Homo sapiens: one gene and its partner. The main gene of each other region encodes a partner of the protein of the gene in region 2 in a complex. Each region holds a gene or a part of one and is shown on either strand. Other genes may lie near its edges. A codon is read from its position in the direction of its gene.

Region 1 (6,504 bases), on a different chromosome or scaffold from region 2:
AAAGCCTTTAAAATTTACAGGGTGACTTGTTAAATAACTTGTGTCTGAGTTCCACATAGGTTGTTCTTAAAGCAATGCTCTCTCATAGTCTTTTCCTTAAAAGGATATGTGGACAACCTAGAAAGTGTTAGAAAGAAGTTGTGTTGTATCCAGTTTTGCAAGATGACACTTGTTCCAGTATCTTTCAAAACAGCTCAGCTTGTACAGTAGATATCTAGTGAATGCTCAGGGGCATCCTTGTTACTATTTTTATTATTTCTGAAAGTAGTGTGTTTTAATACGTGGTATTAGAGCAATGGAGAAGTGTATTTAGGTGACAAATTATATTTCAAATATTTGAAAGTGACGTTTAGCTAAAAATATATTTTTTAAAAGAAAACATATATAGTTAACTATCAGGTTACTAAATGTAAAAGAAGTTAATACTGATAAACATTAGTCATTAAGTAATACATGATAAGTAAAGCAGAATGATCTATTTTCCAAGCATTAGCAGAGATTTTGGAGATAATAAGTTAGTTATCATATATTCAAACAGTGCCCAGTACAGTGCAAGACACTGTACATAAAGTGTCTTGATATAAAATGCAAGTCTAGATTCTTCTGAATGATTCTTTATGACTTTTAAATTTATTTGATAAGATTTGAAAAGTCTTCTTAGCCATAACATTAAAAAATTTCTTTAACATTTAAGAAGTGTTAAATGGAATAGCATAGTTGTAGAGCTGTGAAGAACATTTGAGCAATGATAGCAAATAAACTTTTTTACTGATTTGCATTTCAATGTATGTATAATTTATAAATTAAGATAGATTAGCTCATAGTTTTGGAGGTGACACAGTCTCAGATGATGTGCTCTTTTATGTTTCTAATTTAAGTTAAAGAGGAATTAAAGGTAAGTGAAGGTAAGTGCAGATATACAGCATAAGTAATATACTTAGAACTCAGTAAAAACAAGTTATTCAATAATAAAAGTCTGGAGAAATAATAGCTAACCTTATACTTCCTATCATCTGATACTTAAAAATGCTTTCTTATAAGATTATTCTTTACCACGCATTTAAATATTTTAATGATTATTCAATTATATTTTTCTATTTTCTTTATTATTCCTTAATGTAATTTAGGCTTTATATATCTTAACCATTTGGGTTCTGTGTCCTACATCGAGATGGAAGTTTGCTGGTGATAAGTCAAATATTTAAAGGGAACTACCTTGTGAATTATCTTCGTCTGTTAAAGCATAGCTGTCTACCTGGCAATCCATCATATCTTAGTCATATTTCTTTCTAGTTTTCCCTCACCTTTTCTGTTGTCCATTTATTCTGTTGTCCATTTATTCACTTCTCTGAACAGTCCTTCTGTGTTACTTAAGGATTTTATTGTTAATGTTGCTTATACTTTCCATGCTTTGGAAGGTGTTAGTCTCCTGTTTTCTACAATGTGATACTGAGTTTAAAACAGTGCTTGTCTTCATTTTTGTTTTGGCTCAGGCCTTCAGCAGATCCTTTAATGGGTGCTGTCACTTTCATGATTATTGGGATCAAATACCAGTAACTACTCTTATTATTTACCTTATCATAGGATTGTAGTTTTGAGTCATTTAATACTATAGTTACTGATTAAGTTCATATAGCCTTCTTTAAACAGATTCTGCTTTCAAATTTGAAAACAATATATTCTCTCTCTTCACTCTGTATACTTAGAATCTCACTGAAACTCAATTCTGGTGAACTTAAAATGTATTCAGAGTTCTTGCCTATATTCATATAAAATGTGTCTACTCACTGAGTAGACACATTTTATATGAATATAGGCAGGAACTTTGTTTTGTGATAAATAAGGAGATGCTGACAGTAGGTTTGTGCTTTTTACCTAATACAGGGTAAAAACTTTTATTTCTACATTTTTCTTCCCCCATTATCTCTGCCACCATCCCTTAGACTTCAGGAGCATAATGACCCAGGTAGCTAGGGTGGAAACTGAGCATGTGGACCCTACATCTTTTGGGGAGGGTGGTGAAAAACTGTGTCATGTCAGGTTAGATCTGAATCTCTAGGAGAATAGCTTTTTTGATCTGTTTGCTCCTTTGAGTCTCCCTTTTACTTTATCCTTTGAAAACCAATTGCATACTTCACTTCCATTGCTTCCAGATATGGCATATTTTTCTTAGGCTACTGTTGAAATTTAGCATAATATTTCTCCCTTACCTTTCTGTCCTTTTAAAAAAATAGGACTATAGTAAGTCCTCCGTGTCGGTGGTATGTTTTTGGAAACTGACTTTAAAGAAAACATACAGGAAGTCCTCAAATAGTGTCATTTCATTATAATGATGCAAACAAAACAACTACCTTTGTTATACGTTATTTTGCTTAGAGTCGCAGTTTCTAAGAACCTATCGATGTTAAGTGAGGACTTAATGGTATAGACATTTTGAAATATTTGAGGGAGTTGCAGTTTGGAAAAATTGTATAGAGTCTTCATGTCTCTTCTTATTTCTTTAAAAAAATTTAGAATGGAATTTTAATCTGATAAAATGATAATCAGATCCATTTTGGCAAAACCCAGTGAATCTGGCATTTCATGATGGACCTAAGGGTCAGAGCAGGAGAATGGCAGTGAGGCAGGGCTTGTGTCTTGAGGAGAGGCACTAGGTGATTGGTAGACAAAACAGTGGGCAGTGTAAGGGGTGAGGAAAGACAAGCTAAGAAGGGGAATAATGGGGATTGGGTGGTGCACAGTGGGTAAAGCTGGCATTATATTCAAAGGAAAAACTTGGTTAAAGATTGGCAGTGGGAGAAGAATTTCAGATCATAGGGTTGCTTCTCAGGGCATTTTTAATAAGTATTCAATATATACTAAAACATTTTATCTTGAGTTTGTGATTAAGATGATTAACATTGTTTCTTATTTTAAGGGAAAATAATTTTAACAAAATGCTGCTTTGTGAATTTTAAATATTTAACATATTTAACTTCTCATTTAAAGACCAGAAAAGATTGTTATTTTGATTAAATAAAAATTGGCTTTAGTAATTCAACTTTATATTTAAAATAATTTTAAACTTCCTGTTATGGAAAAATTTAACATCGAATAATACAACGAATCCTCATGTACCATCAGCTTCAGCAGTTATAAACCTGTGGGCAGTCTCCTTTCATCTATACCATTGCTCATTCCCATATCTACTCCGCCATTAAGCTAATCACAGGTGTCATATCAACTTAAAAATTAATATGACTGAAAGCATAAGCTGTTGTAGTTCCACATATTTGCGTAATGTTTATTAGTTTCTTTCCTAAGACTGTATGTCTTAAGAAATTTGCCCTTTGTATTTTGTATGTGCCATTTGGGGAATATAAGGAAAAGTTAAATTTCTGGAAATTAATGTGTTCTATGTGTTTAGTTGGAAGTAATTGTTATGGTAGTATTAGCTTACTTGCTTTTTTGTTGTTGTTGTTGCAGCCGAGTGCTGTTTTAGAAAATAAAAAGTAAATTTAAAATGTGTTTTTGAGTTAAGCTAGATATCACCCCAGAGTACTGTGATTTTTCAGTTACAATCCATTTGATATATTCTGCAGTAAAATTATATTTCATGTACAGTTTTCATTTTGTATTGTTCCTTATATCACAATTGCAAGTATTTTGGTTGTTCTTGTTGATATGTAAAGAACAAATTAACTACTCCTTATTTGTTCATGGTATAGACATAATGAAAGACTTCAATATAGTTGAAACAATCTTTTCCACATTTGCCTGCTTTTATGAAAATATCATTCATTCAGAGTACTTGACATTTGAATATGTGCTGTGAAACTTCTTCTTTGATATTTTCTAATTCTCAGCTATGTTCCCTAATGGGTCTTGTATCTAGTGCCTGGGTAGCATAGTGTGACTGGGATAAAATGTCAGTTATTCCACAGATTTTTTTTTATTCTTTGTAAGTGAATGATAATTTTTACTATGGCTACAGTTTAATTGATCACTCATTATATATTTAATTTTGGAAAATAATTTCATCTAACCCTACCATATATAGATATTTTTGGCTACAAATACTAAATAAAAATATGGCAAATATATTAAATCTTTGTCTATATAGTTTATTTTGCTTTAAAATTTGAAGATAATATTTATTGTAATTGCTCAATACTGACTTCTTTAGCTGATCGATTATAGTTAGGGCTGTTTTTTGCCTTTATTACATTTCTAGGGAGGATGTTCAGATTATAAGAATCTTTTTATAAGTTAGCTTGGCAATCTTGCTTCTGTGGATTGTCTCATTTCCATTTTGGATTTTTATATTGTAAGTTGTTGCTAAAAATTATTTTTTTCCCTTCTTCCACTTACCTTTTGGACCATGAAGGATATATTAATTAAAGTCAAGCTGCTATTGAGTTTTGTGTCTGAATAATTTCTTATACACTTATCATGAGATTTACTTCTATCATATAAGTACTGCTAGTAAAACCAATGAATGTTTAACTCCTTCATAAGCAAAATTATTTTTATGTGATCTCTAAGAAATTCCTCCTTTCACATTTTTCTGTTTTCATACAGGTCCTCATGCTGATACCGCCAGTGGATGCCAGAATTTGCAGTGTGGTTTTCGAGCCTGCTGCCGCTCTGGCGAATGACCCTTGACTTCTGATCTTTGTCTACTTCATTTAGCTGAGCAGGCTTTCTTTCATGCACTTTACTCATAGCACATTTCTTGTGTTAACCATCCCTTTTTGAGCGTGACTTGTTTTGGCCCCATTTCTTACAACTTCAGAAATCTTAATTTACCAGTGAATTGTAATGTTGTTTCTCTTGCAAATTATACTTTTGGTTTAGAAAGGGATTAGGTCTTTTCAAAAGGGTGAGAACAGTCTTACATTTTTCTTTTAAATGAAATGCTTTAAAGAATGTTGGTAATGCCATGTCATTTAAAGTATTTCATAGATAATTTTGAGTTTTAAAGTCCATGGAGGTGATTGGTTCTCTTTACACATTAACACTGTACCAAGCTTTGCAGATCTTTTCCGACACACATGTCTGAAGACTTATTTTCAAAGACAGCACATTTTTGGAAACTAATCTCTTTTCCGTAATATTTCCTTTATTTCAATGATTCTCAGAAGGCCAATTCAAACAAACCCACATTTAAGGTTCTTTAGGATTATAGAATAAATTGGCTTCTGAGTGTTAGCTCAGTGAGCTAGGAAAGCACCAATCGATATTTGTTTCCTTTAGGGATACTTTGTTCTCACCACTGTCCCTATGTCATCAAATTTGGGAGAGATTTTTTAAAATACCACAATCATTTGAAGAAATGTATAAATAAAATCTACTTTGAGGACTTTACCAAGTAATACTGTTGTGTTGTGATTTTTATTATAAATCTCAATCCAGGTTTACTTTAGTATAGAATAGGACTACATACTTTGTCTTTGGACCTCCCATGAACTTATTACCCTGACAAATAGTTTTAGACAGATACTGAATTTTATTGAGCTGAATTTTCTTTTTGAAATGAGTTATTCAGTAGTCAAAATTTGAATCCGTAAGTATATCTACTTTGCTTTGTTAAAACATCATGAGAGTGGAGGCCTGCCACCCAGAAAGGCACATACTAGTGCCTTTTAGTACAATTTTATGTCATGTAGAAGAAAATGGCAATGTTCCTCCTATTGATACAGATACAGGCATATGTCATCTTATTGCGTTTTGCTTTATTGCACTTTGCAAATAATGCATTTTTTACAAATGGAAGGTTTATGGCAACTCTGCGTTGAGCCAGTCTATTGGTGCCATGTTTCCAATAAAACTTCTCCTTTCATGTCTCGTATATTGTGATAATTCTTGGAGTATTTCATAGTTTTTCACTATTATTAAATCTGTTGTGGTGATCTGTGGCCAGTGATTGTTGTTACTATTGTAATTGCTTTGGAATGCCATGAACTGTGCCCTAATAAGACAGAGAACTTAATTGATAAATATTATGTATGTTCTGATTGCTCCACTGACCAGTGGTTCCTGTCTCTCTCCTCCTCAGACCTCCCTCTTCCTAGAGACACAACAATATTGAAATTAGGCCCCAGCTTATAACCTTGCAGTGGACTTTAAGTGTTGAAGTGAAAGGAAGAGTCATGTCTCTCACTTTAAGTGAAAAGCTAGAAATGATTAGGCTTAGTGAGCAAGGCATGTCGAAAACTTAGGCCCAAATCTACGCTTCTTGTGCCATACAGCAAAGTTGTGAATGCAACAGGAAAGTTCTTGAAGGAAATTAAAAGTGCTACTCCAGTGAACACCCAATGATAAGAAAGTGAAACAGCTTTATTACTGATATGGAGAAAGTTTTAGTGGTCTGGATAAATGAAACTAGCCATAAAATTCCCTTAAGCCAAAGCCTAATTCAGAGTAAGACCCTAACTCTCTTCAATTACATGAAGGCTGAGAGAAGTGAGGAAGCTTCAGAAAAGGTTGAAGCTAGCAGGGGTTGATTCATGAGGTTTAAGGAAA
Region 2 (7,447 bases):
AGCACTTTGGGAGGCCAAGGTGGGCAGACAGCTTGAGTACAGAAGTCGAGACCAGCCTAAGGAACATAGGAAAACCCTGTCTCTACAAAAAATACCAAAATTAGCTGGGCATGGTGGCGTGCGCCTGTGGTCCCAGGAACTCAGGGGCTGAGGTGGGAGAATTACTTGAGCCCAGGAGATGGAGGTTGCAGTGAGTCGAGATCACCCCACTGCACTCCAACCTGGGCAACACAGTGAGACTCTCTCTCAAAAAAAAAAAAGGAGAGGTGAACCAGCCTGGACATTGCCCGAGACACTGATCTAAAAGGGTGCTAAAATCTCACTGGAAATGTAACTTGAAAAAAAATGTATAGTGAAAACATACCATAAGCTTCCATTTGCATAGCATTCAAAATAGGGTGTAGGGGATGAGGAAATGGCAGCCTAGGAGGAAAACAGCTGCGGTTATAAAACGGCAACAGGAAGGATCCTTGGAAATGTTCCATATCTTGACTGTAGTGATGGCCACACAAAGCCACACACGTGAACTAAATACACACGTGCATGTGCGCGCACACACACACACACACACACACACCCTACAAAGGAGTACATGTAGAACTGCCTAAATCTGAGTAAGGTGGAATGATTGTATGAATGTCAATTTGCTCGTTTTTATATTGTACTATGCTACATGGAGAAAGACTAGGTGAAGAGTATACGGGATCTTTATTACTTAGTACAACTACATGTAAATCTACAATTGTCACAAAATAAGAATGTTTAACAATAGGTAAATTTTATGATATTTAAACTAAATCTCAATAAAACTGTTAAAGCTGACTGAGATGGCATATGCCTGTAGTCCCAGCTACTTGGGAGGCTGAGGTGGGAGAATCCCTTGAACTCAGGAGTTTGAGATCGGTCCAGGCCAAATAAACAGACCTCTGTCTTAAAATAAATAAAATTTTCAAAAAGTAAATAAAACTGTTAAAAAAAAAAAAAAAGTAATGAGTCCAGCCACACGGGAGCATATCATGATTGTTCTAAGTTAGTGCTTCTCAGTGGAAGCGGGACACTGAGAAAATGGGTGTTTTTGTTTGTCACCATCATGGGGCACTTTTGGGATTCAATGAATGTTAGATTGCCTGCATTCCACACTATAGAATTACACAACAAAGAATCAAACAAGGGCCAGGCCCGGTGGCTCACGCCTGTAATCCCAGCACTTTGGGAAGCTGAGATGGGCGGATCACGAGGTCAGGAGTTCAAGACCAGCCTGGCCAACATGGTAAAACCCTGTCTCTACTAAAAATATAAAACTTAGCTGGGCATGATGGCACGTGCCTGTATTCCCAGCTACTCAGGAGGCTGAGGCAGGAGAATTGCTTGAACCGGGACCCGAGGGGCGGAGGTTGCAGTGAGCCAAGATCATGTCACTGCACTCCAGCCTGGGCTACAGAGCAAGACTCCGTCTCAAAAAAAAAAAGAATCAAACAAGACCCATACTGTCAGATATTCAAGTACATTAAACATACACACAAACATAAAAACAGTAACAACAAATTTGTTTATAATTATCTGAGCCTAGAGTTTAACCCCATATACAAGTAAAAACAAAAGTAATTTGTGTATGGTTTTAATATATACGGAATTTTCTAGGAATACAACTATTGCATAAAAAAAGCAAAGGTTTTTTTTTTTTGTTTTGAACTTTATCAAGAGTTATTCACCATTTCAGAAAATCACAATAGTGACAACACTTCCAATATTTAAGTCACTAACATATTTTCATTAGTCTTTAGAGGCCATTCATGATATATATGTACATTTTATACATATGTGCATTTACCATATATGCATTCATAATATATATTTATGCATGATATGTATGTATATATTGAATCCTTATTTTGCAATGTCAGACATAAAAAGTGTTGACCATATTCAGCTGAATATTATCTTTTTTTTTTTGAGACGAAGTCTTGCATTGTTGCCCAGGCTGGAGTTCAGTGGTGAAATCTCGGCTCACTGCAAGCTCCGCCTCCTGGGTTCACGCCATTCTCCTGCCTCAGCCTCCCGAGTAGCTGGGGCTACAGGCGCCTGCCACCACGCCCGGGTAATTTTTTGTACTTTTAGTAGAGACGGGGTTTCACCGTGTTAGCCAGGATGATCTCCCATCTCCTGACCTCGTGATCCGCCCGCCTCAGCCTCCCGAAGTGCTGGGATTACAGGCGTGAGCCACCGCCCCGGCCTTATCTTTTTTTGAGACAGGGTTTCATTCTGTCTCCCAGGTTGGAGTGCAGTGGCACAATCATAGCTCACTGTAATCTTGAATTTCTGGGCTCAAGTGATCCTCCTGCCTCTGTCTCACGGTAGCTGGTACTACAGGCATGCACCACTATGTCTGGCTAACTCTTTAAGTTTTTGTAGAGACAGGGTCTCACCATGTTGCCCAGGCTAGTCTCAAACTCCTAGCATCAAGCGATCCTGCAGCTTTGGCTTCCCAAAGTGCTGGGATTACAAGCTTGAGCTACCAACTGTGCCTGGCCCAGTCGAATATTATATGTCCTGTAAAACCAAACTCATTCGTTATAAATAGATACAAGCATCTGACTACTCAATTTTGTCATCTAATATAGACATGCCTGTGCAGCTACGTATTATAATACATATTATTTTCTAATAAATTACTTTCCTATTTTTCTCCTTTATATTACAGTTAGGTCATTAAGTAGATTATTTATCGTGTATGTAGATTATATTACCTATGAATTTCATGCTGGGATTGTAAAGGAGATGTTACAAAATATAGCAAGGTGAATAAAGGAAATATATTGGAGTTTGGGTTGACAGGGCTTGGATCAATGATTAAAGGGAGTGGATGAAGGAGTCAGGTATAATGTGTTGATTTCTGGCTTGGGCAACCAGGTGGATGGTGGCGCCATTCGCTAATACAGGCAATACAAAAGGAATAGTAGGTTTAAGGAGGGAAATGACGAGTTCAGTTTTGGAGATTTTTAGTTTGAGGTGCCTTGGGATGTGGAGGCATCCCATGGGTACTAGGATATACACCTCCGGGTTTAGGAGATAGGCTCAGGTCACAGGCAGACTGGGAAGCATCAACATATTAACTAATAACTGAAGTCAAAGGAAGTGTGAGATGGGCCAGGGAAAATGGACAGAGGGAGGAGGTACAAGGCCAGAGCCCTGGGACACATTTAATGTCCAATATATTTTTTTTTGAGACAGGGTCTTGCTGTGTTGCTCAGGCTGGAGTGCAGTGGTGCAATCATGGCTCACCACAGCCTCAATCTCCTGGGCCCAAGTGATCCTCCCACCTCAGCCTCCTGAGTAGCTGAGACTACAGGTGCATGCCACCACACTCAGCTAATTTTTAAATTTTTTTTGTAGAGATAGGGTCTCACTACGTTGCTGTGTTTGGTCTTGAACTTTTCAGCTCAAGCCATCCTCCCACTTTGGCCTCCTAAAGTGCTGGAATTACAGGCATGAGCTACTGTGCCCATCAAGTGCCCAGTACATTTAAAAGCTGGGCGGAGGAAGAGGTCTGCAGAGGAGCCTGAGATCAAGCACCCTTAGGAGAAGAAACAAAAGTAGAGTCTGAAGTCACAGAAGCTGATGGAAGAGTATTTTTCAACAATGGGAGAGAACCAGTCAAGATTGAGATATGTGAGATTAGAAAGTGGAGTTATAGCTGGCCTTGGCTAAAGGCATTTCTGGGAGTGGAAGCCAGACTGGAAGAGGATAAGAAGTGGGTGGGGGAGAGCCGAGTATGAGCGACTCTTTCTGGTAAGTTGCTGCGACAGGAGATAATGCTGGGTAGGTGGAGAACACAGGGACCGGAGGAGCTGAGGCGGAAGGATGGAGAGGCTTAAGCATGTGTTAACTGCCACTGGGAAGAAGTCGGCAATCACGGAAGCTACCGGAGGGTAAGAAAAAATTCATTCATTCAACAGTTGAGCGCCTCCCACGCGCCCGATCAGTATGGCCGCCCCCACTTGAAAACACGCGTGTGGGCCGCCCACGTCTGACAAGTTAATGCAAGGCTTTATAGTTAGGGGAAAGCGGTTCTCCTTGAGCTCTTTCTCCTAGCAGTTCCGATTCCGACCCTGACTCCAACAGACACCTTGCGGGAACGCAAACACCGCTCGAATTCATGACCCCAATAGAAAACTTAAGGCCGCAACTAAGTAACGGATCGCTGCGAAGGCCAAACTAGCCACGCCAACGCCCCCACTGGAGCCTCCCCAGCGCTCCGCCCCCGCTCGCGAGAACAGCGGCGACGGCGCGAGAAATCGCTTTCTGGTTAGCTCCGCCCCTTCCCTTTCTTTGTTTTCCTGTCCGACGATCTCGCGGGAGTTAGGCGACAAATCCCGCGAGCGCAGACCCGGGGCTGGCTCTGCTGCTCTCGCGATATTTGCGCGAGCCTGCTTCCTTCTTTCCTCCCTTGCCAGTCCGCCTGTCTTCCTCCCCGTCTTCCCTGCCCGGCCTCCCCCTTCTTCCCCCGCTGGCCCCCTCCCCGGAGGGATAATATGGTCTCCGGCGATGGACGCCCCAAAAGCAGGTCAGTTTCGGGCCTCCGAGCTGGGTCTGGCAGTTGGAAACGCGCGCTGCCTAGGCGCCGAATTCCTTGCTTTTCTCGCCTGGAGTCGCTCGGCAGGCGCCCAGGCCCTCGGGGCTCGGGTTGTGCTCCCCTCGGGGCCTGCCTGCTGGGCCGCCCTTTGAGCCTAGGCCGCGGAAGCTGGGGCTCCCGATCCCCACCCTCCTGCGCGACACCCGCAGGGCGGGCCACCCCACCGCTGGCCTTGACCCGCACCCCTCTCTCTCCGGTGGCCGCTGCCTGCTGCCAGCGGCTTCCTGGCCCCCGTCAGCAACACCAGGGGCAGGGAGAGGCCCACCGTCTTCTCCTGCCCGCCCCCCATTGGCGAGCGATGAAGGCGGGGGCCTGCGTCTCCGTGTTCGGGTCTCACGCAGCTAGATGTTGATTCCACGGTCCAGCCTAAGGCCCCTCAGTCTCTCTGTGCCTCTGGAAGCCGAATGAGGGGCAGTCAAGGTTGAACATTGGTCAGTCAGTTCTCCGACCATTTATTGCACCGCTGTCTCCTCCCCCGTCCACCTCCCTCTACAAAAAAAAAAAAAGAGAAAAAAATACTATTCATTCTGAAAATGGGCTGTGCTTATGTTTTCTCCTTTTGGATGAAAGCCTTAACAATGTTGAGGGTCCTGGCCACCCACCGCTATGAGTCTGCACAAAAGATCTGAAGGTTCTTTTCAACCTCAGGGCTGCCTCCCCGCCACTGCCCCCTAGAATGTTGGGAGCTGAGGCACGTTTAAATGAGACCTCTGGATCTTTGACTTAGTAGTTCAGCTTCAGTTCGTGCAAAACCAGAAGACTTGTCTCTTTCGGGTAGAATATGCTAATTTCCTAGAGATTCTGTTACTTTTATTTTCAGTACTAAGCCCTGGTAAGGACTTAACTGAGAAGTTTTTTTGTTTTGGTTTATTGAATGCTCTGTAAAAATCCGTCTTTTAGTTTTTTTTTTTAATCAGTCCCTCTAATGTTAATTGTGGAATTCACAAATTCCTGTCTCTGCAGTTTTCAAGACATGTCTTTCCAAAACGTCCCCGTGGATTATTTAAATCATTCTTATTGTCCCTTTCCAGGTATTCTTATCACATTTCAGGAGTGAATTATCTTACTAGTTTTTACTTGACAAATTATGGTTTAGAACTATGCTTTCCAGTGTGGTGGATACTAGCCCTGTGTGACTTTAAATTAATCAAAATTAAATAAATTAAAAATTCAGTTCCTCAGGCACGATAGCCACATTTCAGGTGCTCAATAGCCACACGTTGCTAATGGCTACTTTACTGGACAGCTCAAACATAGAATATTTTTACCATTGCAGAAAATTCTATTGGATAAAGCTAGTTTCCAGGTATTTTCAGCTGAATAAAATATTTTGTTGCTGCATTTAATGAAAATACAATTTTTTTTTCAGGATACGCCTTTGAGTACCTTATTGAAACATTAAATGACAGTTCACATAAGAAGTTCTTCGATGTATCTAAACTTGGCACCAAGTATGGTAATGTTGCTTTACATTTTCTTGGGTTTGTTTAGTCTCTAATAATGAAAATGCATTTGTCAAGCTGAGCTGAAGAAATTTTAAATGTATTTCCACCGTATTGTAACAGGTACACCTACACATACCTATACCATTTTAAAAACTCCTCCTGGGACAACTTCTGTTCAGGGAAGATGTAGGCCCACACCTTAACTTCTCATTTAAAAATCTAAGTTAATTAAGCACTAGTTTTTCCCCTCAAAGAAACCAATAATGCAGTTTTCAAACTTTTTTTTTTCTTGTTTTTGTGAAGACAGGGGTCTTGCTATGTTACCCAGGCTAGTTTTGAACCCCTGGGCCCAAATAATCCTCCCACCTCTGCCTCCCCAAGTTTTGGGATTACACATGTAAGCTACTGCGCCTGGCCTAATGTGATTTTTAGAAGAACCTGACTGACTGATGATAATTCTACACCAATTAAATGTATATTTTATTTTCTCTTTTCTTTTCTTTTTTTTTTTGAGACAGAGTCTTGCTCTGTTGCCCAGGCTAGAGCACAGTGTTGTGATCATAGCTCATACAGCCTTGAACTCCTGGGCTAAAGCAGTCCTGCCTCTGCCTCCCAAGTAACAAGGCCTACAGGTGTATGCCAACACATTTATATAAAAACATATTTTTATATTTTTTGTAGAGTTGGGGTCTTGCTGTGTTGCCCAGACTAGTCTCAGACTCCTGACCTTAAGTGATGCATCTGCCTCAGCCTCACAAAGTATTGGGATTGCAGGCCTGAGCCACTATGCCTGGCCTGTTTTACTTTGTCAAATGAACAGTGCCCACATCTATTCTTTTTGCCATCTGTTGAATAGGAATCACCAACAGGACCCATTGATTTGAATTTTTCTGAAGTATTGGGCATGGTTTGCCCCAACCTACACACCTGCAGTTTTGGCAGACATTCTCATTGACCTTATCAGGGTCAAACCTTTCTCTGTGGTCTCAGAAGAGTGAATGTGGGCGACCTATAGGGCATTGAATGGAAGTTTTGACTTTACTAACAGTTGAGTAACTTTCTCAATTGGGCCAATAGAGAGACCTCTTTAGAAGACTCATTATTCTTTGTGAACTTTTCCATGACAATGACATGAAAAGATAAATTGAATGCCACATCTGTTGCAGTCAGTTTTGGAAGGAGCTTTAATCTTGTTTTTTCTTGCATTATTTAATTAAGACGATTGTTCTTGTGATTTTTCTGTAGATTTTGAGGAATTTAAATATTCTTGACTGCTATGTGCAATATTTTTTGTGTATTGTGAAATACAGCTATTTTGGAGTATCTTAAAGAATCCCCATTTTAGAATTAGGCTGTCATTTAAAAATAA

Evidence for each region. Proteins that work in one complex are often made in the same cells at the same time.
Region 1: the proteins of IREB2 (region 2) and FBXL5 are in contact, whole or in part, in a cryo-EM structure (PDB 6VCD), measured with the Homo sapiens proteins. Residues at the interface, in NP_004127.2 of Homo sapiens: Asp89, Phe90, Ser129, Asn217, Val220, Glu221, Arg224, Arg228, Ala758, Gly759, Ser760, Arg763, Asn764, Thr777, Pro778, Arg779, Asn782, Ser783, Tyr784, Gly785, Ala786, Arg788; in NP_036293.1 of Homo sapiens: Asp656, Glu657, Tyr661, Cys662, Asp663, Asn664, Ile665, His669 (codon at 4,566), Ala670 (codon at 4,569), Asp671 (codon at 4,572), Thr672 (codon at 4,575), Ala673 (codon at 4,578), Ser674 (codon at 4,581), Gly675 (codon at 4,584), Cys676 (codon at 4,587), Gln677 (codon at 4,590), Asn678 (codon at 4,593), Leu679 (codon at 4,596), Gln680 (codon at 4,599), Cys687 (codon at 4,620), Arg688 (codon at 4,623), Ser689 (codon at 4,626), Gly690 (codon at 4,629), Glu691 (codon at 4,632).

What each region holds. Positions count from the first base shown.
Region 1 is NC_000004.12:15,603,856-15,610,359, reverse strand, and holds the end of FBXL5 (F-box/LRR-repeat protein 5), read left to right. Parts: intron 1-4,560; coding exon 4,561-4,637; 3' UTR 4,638-5,979; downstream 5,980-6,504.
Region 2 is NC_000015.10:78,433,793-78,441,239, forward strand, and holds the start of IREB2 (iron-responsive element-binding protein 2), read left to right. Parts: upstream 1-4,423; 5' UTR 4,424-4,545; coding exon 4,546-4,564; intron 4,565-4,628; exon of another isoform or gene 4,629-5,064; intron 5,065-6,002; coding exon 6,003-6,089; intron 6,090-7,447. UniProt on the Homo sapiens protein: RNA-binding protein that binds to iron-responsive elements (IRES), which are stem-loop structures found in the 5'-UTR of ferritin, and delta aminolevulinic acid synthase mRNAs, and in the 3'-UTR of transferrin receptor mRNA.